Linked DNA regions of Homo sapiens: region 2 is linked to region 1. The links come from fine-mapping of genetic effects on gene expression. A gene starts in region 1. The other region holds a variant in brackets. All regions are shown on one strand. Distances are from middle to middle.

Region 1 (5,394 bases):
TATATATATAAAATCTTATTTTATATATATTTTATATATATATAAAATCTTATTTATACAGCCATTTTTCTAAATAAAAAATACAGCCATTTTTCTAAAATATAATTTTTTCTTTTAAACTTTTTTTCCTTTTCCCAGGGGGCAATGCTTCACTGATATAAATAATGATGTTATAAATATTTCCTTTTTTTTTTTTTTTTTGAGATTGAGTCTTGCTTTGTCACCCAGGCTGGAGTGTAATGGTGTGATCTCAGCTGACTGAAACCTCTGCCTCCTGGGTTCACGTGATTCTCCTGCCTCAGCTTCCCGAGTAGCGGGATTATAGGCGTTTGCCACCATGCCCAGCTCATTTTTGTATTTTTCACCGCGTTCATCCAGCTGGTCTCAAACTCCTGACCTCAGGTGATCCACCCTCCTTGGCCTCCCAAAGTGCTGGGATTACAGATGTGAGCCACTGCCCCGGCCATTATTTTCATAATTTAGCTTTCTTCTTTTAAAATGTTTCTTTAGGATAATTCATCATATGTGAAACTAAAAAGTGAAAGGAAAACTATTTTGAACTTCTTGGGCTCTACTGTCTTAGTGATCTTTAAAAAGATAACATAAATTTATAAATATTCCAGACTTATATGTGAATATGGCAGTTTCAAGCAAAATTCACTACCATTGAATAATAAAGCTTATTTTAGAATCATTTAGATTTTGATAAGAGTTAAATAATACCTAAAAGTGGTTTTCATTTTTATTTTTTATTATTAATGTAAGAGAGAGATTTCACTGTAATTGTCTGTCATACATTGTTCTTCTTGGGTTATTATCTATTCATATTCACTGCTTATACATCCCCACAGGTTTCTTTTACCTAAGCATGTGAATCAGCTCTTTATGTTTAATACATATTTACCATCTGTCTTTTCATACTTGACATGCATTCGTTTTCCTAAGATTTTTCCCTATTTAGTTTTTTTATCATATTCTTTCTTTTTTCTTTCTTTCTTTTTGTTTTTGAGATGGAGTTTCGCTCTTGTTGCCCAGGCTGGAGTGCAATGGCGTGATCTTGGCTCACCACAACCTCCGCCTCCTGGGTTCATGTGATTCTCCTGCCTCAGACTCCGGAGTAACTGGGATTACAAGCATGCACCACCACGCCCGGCTAATTTTGTATTTTCAGTAGAGACAGGGTTTCTCCATGTTGGTCAGGCTGGTCTTGAACTCCCGACCTCAGGTAATCCACCTGCCTTGGCCTCCCAAAGTGCTGGGATTACAGGCGTGAGCCACCGTGCCCGGCCCATCATATTCTTAAGGCCAACTTTATCTTCAACATTTGGAATAAATAATAAGCTTGTGATCCTCCTTATTATATAAAATAATAACTTTGATTTTTGTAACAGCAGTTGAATGTGTATATAAAATGAAAATTAAATTAAGATTATTTGTGAAACTAACAGCTTTATGCTTAAGGAACCCGTCTGTAAGACAGATTTTAGTAAGAAATGGAAATATTTATATTGTGCCTGATGTCACTGATATTCATCCTTGGTAGCAAAGAAGAAAGAGCATCAACTTTTGAATCTGAAATCTAGATTTGAGTATTGACTGTGACATCATTTAGCTGTGTGATCTTAGGCAAATATTTTAACTTATTTGAATTGAACTTTCTTTAGATATGTAAAATATGATCACAATATAAATTTAAAGAATTATTGCGAGAATTAAAAATAATTTTTGTAAATTGCCTGGTACACAGAAAACCATCAATATATGAATCCCTGTTATTTTAAAATATCACTTTTTTTTTAAATATGAGCTTTTCTTATTTTGTTCTCACGGAATCTTCATGAGGTACAAGTAGTATTTTCTCCATTTTACAGGTTAGGGAACTGAAATGTGTAAGTAACTAGTCAAGTTACTCAACTAGGGAGCAGGGGAGCTGGAATTTGAACACAGGCAGTCTACTCCCAGAAGATTAGCTCTTACCCACTGCATAAAACGGCTAATCACTGCATAAAACATCTGTAATCTCAGTTCTATGGTTTTTCTATAAGTATTTTTACCTGGTCAGTGCAAATGCCAACCTCCCATTATATGCTGTGTGAATCTTACTTAGTCTTCAAGATTAATCAGATTTCTAGCATCTCCATGAAGATTTATTTTTGATAGACTTTTTTCACATAGAAGTAATTTTGGCCTCGCCTATATTTTCATAGTAATTATCTATAGCATTTTCATACTACTTAAGGTGCTAGTAATTATCTATAGTACTTTCATACTACTTAAGGTGCTCAAATTACATTATGCCTATTTGGGGATATGTTTTAAATCATAAGATTCCGGAGCACAAAAAGAACTATATCTTATTTTTTGTATCCTTTCCCCACATCTAGTTCAATGAAGTGCATATAGTAGATACCCAGCCAATATTTGCTATATAATCAAGGGAAGATAATAAAAGGCATTAGATTAAAGCCAAAAATGTTCCATGAAAAGTTATGAAAGGAGAATAGGTGAAATATGTCAAATTATACTTTGAATAAAACCAGTATTTTAAACAAAATATGCTTAATTATATGAAAAAACCCCATTGCTGGTTCAAACTACAAAGCATTTAGTGTATTTCATATGTACTTGTGAACATATATGTTTTTCACTCATGGAAAATTTAGCAGAAATCCCTATTTTTTGATTATCGAAAAAAACCAAACCAAATTATTGCTGATACAATAAAGCATTCATCTCATCATACACACACAGACACACAAATATATATCACACACATGCATGCACACACACACACAGAGTACACACATAACAATCAATAGAAACAATTCTGGAAAAAACATTAAAATAAGCCTTTTTTTTTCTTTACCTTTCGTCCTAAAGAAAGCAGCACTGATTTATCCACTTCTCTCTCTTTACAATTGAAACCTAAAATCTTTATCTCATAGTATTTCAGCATCTGGTACATGAAGAAAGGAAATGACACATTCCTGCGTTGAAAATCTTTCTTAATGTGTTTCAATAGCACTCTCATCAATGCACAGGTTTGCAAAATCTAAATTTGTCAGATAACTCACTCTTCACCCCATTTAGGCCGCTTTAAAAAAAAAAGAGAAGTGAAAAGGAAAAGAAACAAGGGTTGTTGAAACAAGCACATAATTTACAGCAGATTGAGCTTTCCTTTTTTTTTGGAGATGGAGTCTCGCTGTCTCACCAGGGTGGAGTGCAGTGGTGTGATCTCCGCTCACTGCAACCTCTGCCTCCCAGGTTCTACAGGCGTGTGCCATCACACCCGGCTAATTTTTTGTATTTTAGTAGAGACAGGGTTTCGCCATGTTGGTCAGGATGGTCTTGATCCCCTGACCTCATGGTCCGCTCGCCTTGGCCTCCCAAAGTGCTGGGATTACAGGCGCGAGCCACCGTGCCCAGCCTGATCTTTCCTTTTTTATAAGTAATCTATGCCTTCTAAAACATACATTAATTCTCATGATCTCCTCTTTCACGTTACTATAATGTTGAGTAAAGACTCCATGTTTGGCTAGGTGTGGTGGCTCATGCCTGTAATCCCAGCACTTTGGGTGGCCGAGGTGGCTGGATCACTTGAGGTCAGGAGCTCTAGAACAGCCTGGCCAACATGGTGAAACTAGTCTCTACTAAAAATACAAAAATTGGCCAGGCATGCGCCTGTAATCCCAGCTACTCGGGAGGCTGAGGCTGAAGAATTGCTTGAACCCAGGAGGCGGAGGTTGCAGTGAGCAGAGATCGCACCACTGCACTCCAGCCTGGGCAACAGAGTGAGACTCCACCTCAAAAAAAAAAAAAAAAAAAAAGACTCCATGTTTAGAGATTCGAGTTTTTTTCTTAGATCCTTTTTCCTGTACCTTTATCCCTAGCCTCAAACACAAAACACGTGAAGAAAGAATATGATGCCTTAGTAAGAACAAGTAATAACCTAAAAGCACTCACTCCTGTTCTCTCTATAATGATAATAGCATTAATTTTTAGAGCACCAGACAAGTTGTTTATTTCCAGTAGTATAGTAGAGGGAAGGAATCTCAGGCATGGATCAGATGAAAGGGATGTTCTTTCCCTTCTGCCATCCATCAGGGTTTTATACAATTCAACTCCGTTATTTACTCACATTCAAGAAGTTCAAGTATGACTCACATGAAAACGTTCAACATTACATTAATGAGCTAAGTTTTACAACTGATATTTCTGGGAGAAGGTGTTTAGCTTATATTCCGTAGTCACTCTTTTGTGCCCAAACAGGAGAAATCATGCTTCCTACCAAAAGATGCCCCAAATTGCTGTGCCCATGGGCACCATCCTTCAGAAGACAATACGTCTGCAAGAAAGTATGCGGGAACAGCGCACGGTCTTTGAGAGATGCAAAGTAACAGTATTATTCAGTTATTCTTAAGGTAACCACTAAAAGGCTAATAGTAGTAGTAGGACAGGCATCAAAGTAAGCTGCATAATTTCTAACCAGGCAGCTTGAAGACTAGAAGTACGATCACAATTTGATCCAGCCTGGACCAGCATAAATGCTATTGGCTATTCCTCATCAAATTCTTACTGACACAGAACTGGAGACTACAAAACTCACACTCTTTCCTTTACAATTATTTGTACATGCTTCTTATTTTAAAATATAGTCCTTTTAGGTTTTTTTGTACAAAATCTGAAGTTTAAAATTTAGATATCCCTGACAATGCTACGTGATTAGAAAAGTCAGACTCTGGGAATAACAAGACACCAATCTCCCAAAATTCTATCCTAATGAGGTTTCTTTCTGTCAGTGTGCTTTATTTTCAGTATGTCTCTGTAATACTGTTTGGTGTATATCCACAGTGCTGACCACTTCCCTATGTGATGATTTCCACACTCTTCAGCCAATCTAATTTTTCATTAAAAAACTTCCCTTTTTATATGTCTAAATAGGTACTATATAATTTTATATAGTTTTATATATAATAATTATAGATTATGTAACATAATATTATCTATTAGGTCTTACTATATGTAAAAACACCTTTAGCAGGGAACCATGTTAAAAATGTTCAGTTCAAGCCAATGATTAATTGAGAACAGAGGTAATATGTAAAGGGTTGGGATTTTGCATTCATTCCTTCATTTGACTTCACAGCAACTTTGTCATATCACTTCCCTAATTGAGAAATTAATGTTTAGAGATGGTAAGTAAATTTCTCGAGATCAGAGTTATGAGTCATCAGAGCTGGTATTTAAACCCAGTCTGATTACAAAATTTGGCAAAATATAGTTTTTTCTTAAGCTGAAGTAGGTATATGTATTATTAGGGGACTATAATATCTCCATCAAAAACAGTATACAGAAAACAAGCCACAAATATGGGCAAATTCCAGATCATGTGGA
Region 2 (5,394 bases), 440 kb after region 1:
GCCCATCTCCTAATGTCCTCATAACAGCAATATTTTATTTTTACATTTTGGTTTCTCTTATATTCCCAAATATAGAGCCCACATTAAATGAAAGCTAACTAAACAACTATTTGGGAGTTCCTAGAACCTACTCTTTTCCAGCCGTCTCTCTAAGTGGACTACCCTTGTTCCTCAAATTCCACCACATTAGGTCTTTTAAAGTTAATCATGAGTGCTCTACATTAAAATGCAAAATATCCTAGAAAGAAAGATATTTTTACCTACTGGTATATAAGTGTGTATTATTTTATCAGATCCTTGGTATGGTATTGACCATACGATGGTCAATGAATTAGTATTGAATACCAGGATTTAAAGCAGGCTTCAAAAGACACTGAGGAACGTAGATCAAAGAGAGCTGGTGAAAAGTTTTAGGATACCAGGTGGGACATGGAAACTAGCAGCACCTTTAGGCCATTTGCCAAAGTGGGGAAAGGAGAAAATATTTTAAAGCAGGTGGGAGTATGCTGATGTAACTACCTTCTTCACGCTTTCATTTAGAGCCACTGTGCCCAAGAGACTGAAAATACTTGCGAAATTATTACACATATCCCAAAGTCAGGGCTATAAATTGTGATGCAACAAAAGACCTGACTTTCCCAGGCTGACCACCCAGCTTGCTTACACCTCCCTGCACAGCAACATACACAAGTTCCAATTTGAGGCCCTGCTTTAGAAATTTCTCACCTGTCCAAAAGAAATTCACCTGAATCTTCCTCTCTACTCCACCTAAAACTGATGAATCTTCCTTACTTCTGGTTGTAGAAAGAATGAATGAATTCATTTCTCAGAAAAGAAAGTTAACACTGAGATGATGGGGGAAATGTTGGCAGATATTCATATATGGACAACTTTTCCTCATCTCTAAAATCATACTATGCCTAAAGCCAATGTTCAGGTTACACCTATTATAATTATTTTGCAATATTTAGATAGATACCTAAGTCAGAGACGTCAAAGCAAGGGCTTTCCTTCGCAATTATAACCCCTCTAATCCTATCCCAAATTCCCAGCTATCTTCAAAACAAAGCCAGTGGATTTCTGTGCATAATTAACACCCAGACTAGACCATTCTTAACTGGCTCCTCACCTGTAACACAAAATTAACGTCAGGAAATACAACTACACCTATCATTAGCTGCATTCCATATTCCAAAAGAGAAAAAGATATTGCTTTGAATATATCTTCCTCTTACTTTTTCAAATATTTCCTTATTTGAATTCCTTTGGGTAAATGTCATTTCCTGTTAGGACCCCAAATTCGAATTCCTTTTTGAGATTCAAAATAACAACCAGTTGTTGGTTTCACAATAGCACTGCAAAAGACTGAAAGTTCTTATAAATCCCTGAAGGAACAAAAAACCATGAGAGTTTTTATCTACCTAACATTTTGAGTTTTGATCCTTTGGTTTTAGTTTGATATGCTAATATTTTATGCAACTAATTAATAATAACTAATTTTAATAAACTCAGAACATCTGTAGAAGGTACAATTTAGGCAACTACTAAATCATGCACCTCTTTCCTGGATTCATTCCGTAGTTTTAAAACAAATTAGTGTCCATTAAATACAACATATTTCCATTTTAAAGAAATTATTTAAATTCCACGTAATACTTTATGCATGCATGAATATTTGAACATGTAAAACAAAAACAAAAATGTTAGAACTTGTAGTTAGCACTCTGTTCAATGTTCTAGTTCAATTTCTATTTTTTTCGTCTATCCTATAATTGTTTATCTTGATTCTATTATTAAATGAGTATGCTGGGTTTATAAGATGAAATTAATTCCAATCTAGCAATTTCTAAATTCACAATTTTATAAGTCTTAGCTATGTGAAAATAAATAGAAACAGACCTTTTTGCTGATTTTATAACTAAAGAAACCTGAATTGAATAATTAGGACATAAAAATATGTGATAGTAAAGTTTTCTGAGAAATGGCCACCAAAAACAAGATTCATTTTCAAGTAAACAATGCAAAAATTCACTAAGCTGTTTGCCAAGTAGTTTTTCTCTTTCTACCTTTATACTTGCACTAGCTCTGCTAAAAGAAGCCTAATATATCTATGATTGAGGCCATGCCTTTATTGGAAATAGTGAAAATAGGATAATACATTCAATATTGGTTCACTTAAGGTAAGCCTAAACTACAGGAGATAAAGAATGCCATTAGCCAAATAGAAACTGTCTTAAAGATACAACATCTAAGAAGATGATGACAACAGCATAATATGAAACTCCAGTTAGTTAGCAACCTGCTTTGGTGATAAGACTTGAGCTCATAGGGGTATGCGTCCCAATAAAATAATTCAAAACGTGGAAGAAAAAACAGAGTGTGACATCAGAAAATTGCTGAAATTATTTCTATTTGAATACTTTTTTTCTGACCCAGAGAGGTACAATTTATCATGGAATGAATGGAACAATATGTGACAATAAGAGGAACCAATGAGAATAAATTAGGCTAGATTGCTGTGATACAGTGTTTTGCTTACTTGAATTGCCTACAAGTTTCTTTGCTAAATTCAAGTTGTTTCCTATACTGCTTAACGTGCCAAATTTGTTTTGATTCAAAATGCAGTAATGAAAAGAAAAAATTACATTGGCATTACTTTATACGGCAAAGTTATTTTTAGATATTAATATATTCCACAAACAAATTTATTGTACTCATTCTAGTTGACCTTAAAATTCTGTTATTCTGCTATTTTCCTAAAGAATATAAAGATCCAGTATGAATGTTAGTGTAAAAAAATCTTACAAAGCTCTACCTGGCTTTGATGACCCGTCATTACACAGTAAGATCCCTGCTGCTACTGGCGCTGAATTCTCAATCATGATAGAGCTGCTCCACAATCATGGAAAGATTTGTTAATTTTTGCATCCACACCCCTTCACTCTAGTTTGACCACACGCTAGGTTGCCTCTTTAATGCCAGGTTCCACCACGTGACTTGAATTAGCCAATGAAATGTAAACAGAAGTTACACGAGCCTCTTCCATGCACCAGGTGCAAATCTTGTCTCATTTTCTTCT[A/G]TCTCTTTCCTCCCCCGCACTGCCACATGTGAAGCTGCTGATTGCCTGGGTTCTGGACTGAAGATCTTATGGAGATGAGCACCAGCTGGTCTCACGCATGTAGTCTGAGCAAGAAACCATTGTTTATCTTTTTTTAAATTTTCTGTTACTGCAGCATAATTAAGCCTTAGATCATTAATAAAATGTGTATTTAGAAGACTGGAAGAAATATATTTTATCAAATATATTTATATCAAATTGTAAACAGTAACATATGCTGGATGATATGGGGTCAAGGTAATCTTTTCATTTTTTGTTTTTCTGCACTTAAGGAAAAATATCTATTTAAATATTGGAATCAAAATAATGCTTTCTATGTTCTCACTTATTTGTAGGAGCTAAAAATTAAAACAATTGAACCCATGAAGATAGAGAGTAAGTAGAAGGATGGTTACCAGAGACTGGGAAGTGTAGTGGGGGTTGGGGGAGAAAGTGGGGATGGTAAACAAGTACAAAAATAACTAGAAAGAATTATTAAGGACTAGTATTTGATAGCACAACAAGGTGACTATAGTCAATAATAATTTAATTGTACATTTTAAAATAACTAAAAGAATATAATTGTATTGGTTGTAACAAAAGATAAATGCTTGAGGGGATAGACACTGCATTTATCCTGATGTGATTATTCTGCATTACATGCTGGTATCAAAGTATCTCACGTACCCCATAAATATATAAAACAATGTACCCACTAAAATTAAAAATTAAAAAAATACTTTATAAATACTATAAAATCAAATGCTTTGAATATATTCATATGCTGTTCTAATTCCATCCATTGCAGGCAGTTAAAAATTTACTGTGATAAATAATGTATCCTAATCTCCCTAAATGGGCAGATAGAATTACATACTTTTTACCCTTTAACCCTGGAAGAATAGACGTGTCTATTGGCAATTTAGAGGACAAAGAAAGAAGTGTGCAGAAACCCTGAAGCCCTTACTGTCCAATTCTTTATGGCACCAAGAGATGTTCTCACAGTCTGCATCAAGATGGCTGGTGGCTGGTAATAAGTTTTATGCTAGTAAGTACTTCCGTGAAATTAGTTATTTGCTGGATCCAAAACTTCATTAGCTTATGTTAAGGGAGAATTATCTTCAAAGCACCCTCTCAACTAGCAGGGTATGCCCCATAGACGTTTGGGCCAGAAAGCTCATGGCTGAGTCTATCCACCCCATTCCCTTCCCCTACATTTGCATTTCTGTTCCTTAAACTGCTTCCTGCTTCCATTCATGGAAGTAAGACCCTCCTCTTCCCTCTAAAGATCACACCAGCAGAAACACCTCTCCCCTAAGTGGCTTTAGTTTTCCACTCCTAAACTTATTTTATGTTGTATTGTATTTGTTCGTCTTCATTAGTAAAAGTTAGAAACTTAGAAACAAGAAAGCAAAAAGTATTTAGTGATTTTATAAGAATATATGCCATGTCTCAAGGAGTGATATAAACTTAAATATTTTAAATGTTTACATTCTGCTAATTTCTCTCTTTATTGGAGCAAAATAATCGTAACGCTATTCTTTAAGAATACCCATAAATTCACCTCAAGAAAAACGGAAGATTTAAGCAAAGATTTAAATAATGTTGTTTACTAAAATATTATTTGTAAAAGTTAACGATAAAGAGAAAAATTAACAAACATTGATTACACTGTTATTTCCAAAGAAGTAAATATGTTGCAGTAATTAAAACTTGTGATTTTTCAAAGACGTTTTGAGAAAATAAGAAATGCTTATGATATAATGTTAAATGGAAAATAATTTAAAAGTATGAATATATAACATAAATATTCCCATTTTAATTATTTCAATTACTTTAAAGAAAAAATGGAAAGAAGCAACAAGCATCTCAGGATCACATAATTAGGAATTACATGATAGTATTGTTGCCCCAAAATACATAGGTTTTGTGTTTTTTTTGTGTGCTTTCAAATTTTTCAACAAAATAAGGCTTCACTTTCACAACTGTAGGAAAACAAATTAAAGGAATCTCTACATGTACATAAATTCCAGTTTTCAGTAATCCAAACGCTATTCAACCAACTTCTTAGTTGAATTAATAATACAGCAACAATACAGTATCCATTTTAAAATCCCCATAGTAAAAAAAAAAACAAAACTATTTCTCTAACATTTTGAGGAATAAAGTTGGCTACTATGCTCTGCTATGTAGCTGAGAAGACAAACAAACAAACAAAATCCTAAAGCTCTTTCCTGGCAGCACTGCAAAATCCGAACATTAATGAGGGGAAAGTGGCATATATATGTTTATTCATA

The links. PIP is the estimated chance that this variant, and not a neighbour inherited with it, causes the effect.
Region 2: its variant is the best candidate, but not a certain one, in a credible set for the expression of MSR1 in monocytes (TOPMed, PIP 0.72).

Annotation. Positions count from the first base shown.
Region 1 is chr8:16,189,732-16,195,125 of GRCh38, forward strand. MSR1 (macrophage scavenger receptor 1) reads right to left here and starts at 2,920. Exons shown (of 10, transcript NM_138715.3): 1 at 2,867-2,920.
Region 2 is chr8:16,625,591-16,630,984 of GRCh38, forward strand. The region is part of intron 6 of LOC101929028 (a long non-coding RNA gene); the gene reads right to left. Among named protein-coding and RNA genes, the nearest start is that of FGF20, 370 kb to the right of the region's middle. The variant A/G (reference allele first, on the strand shown) is at 3,080.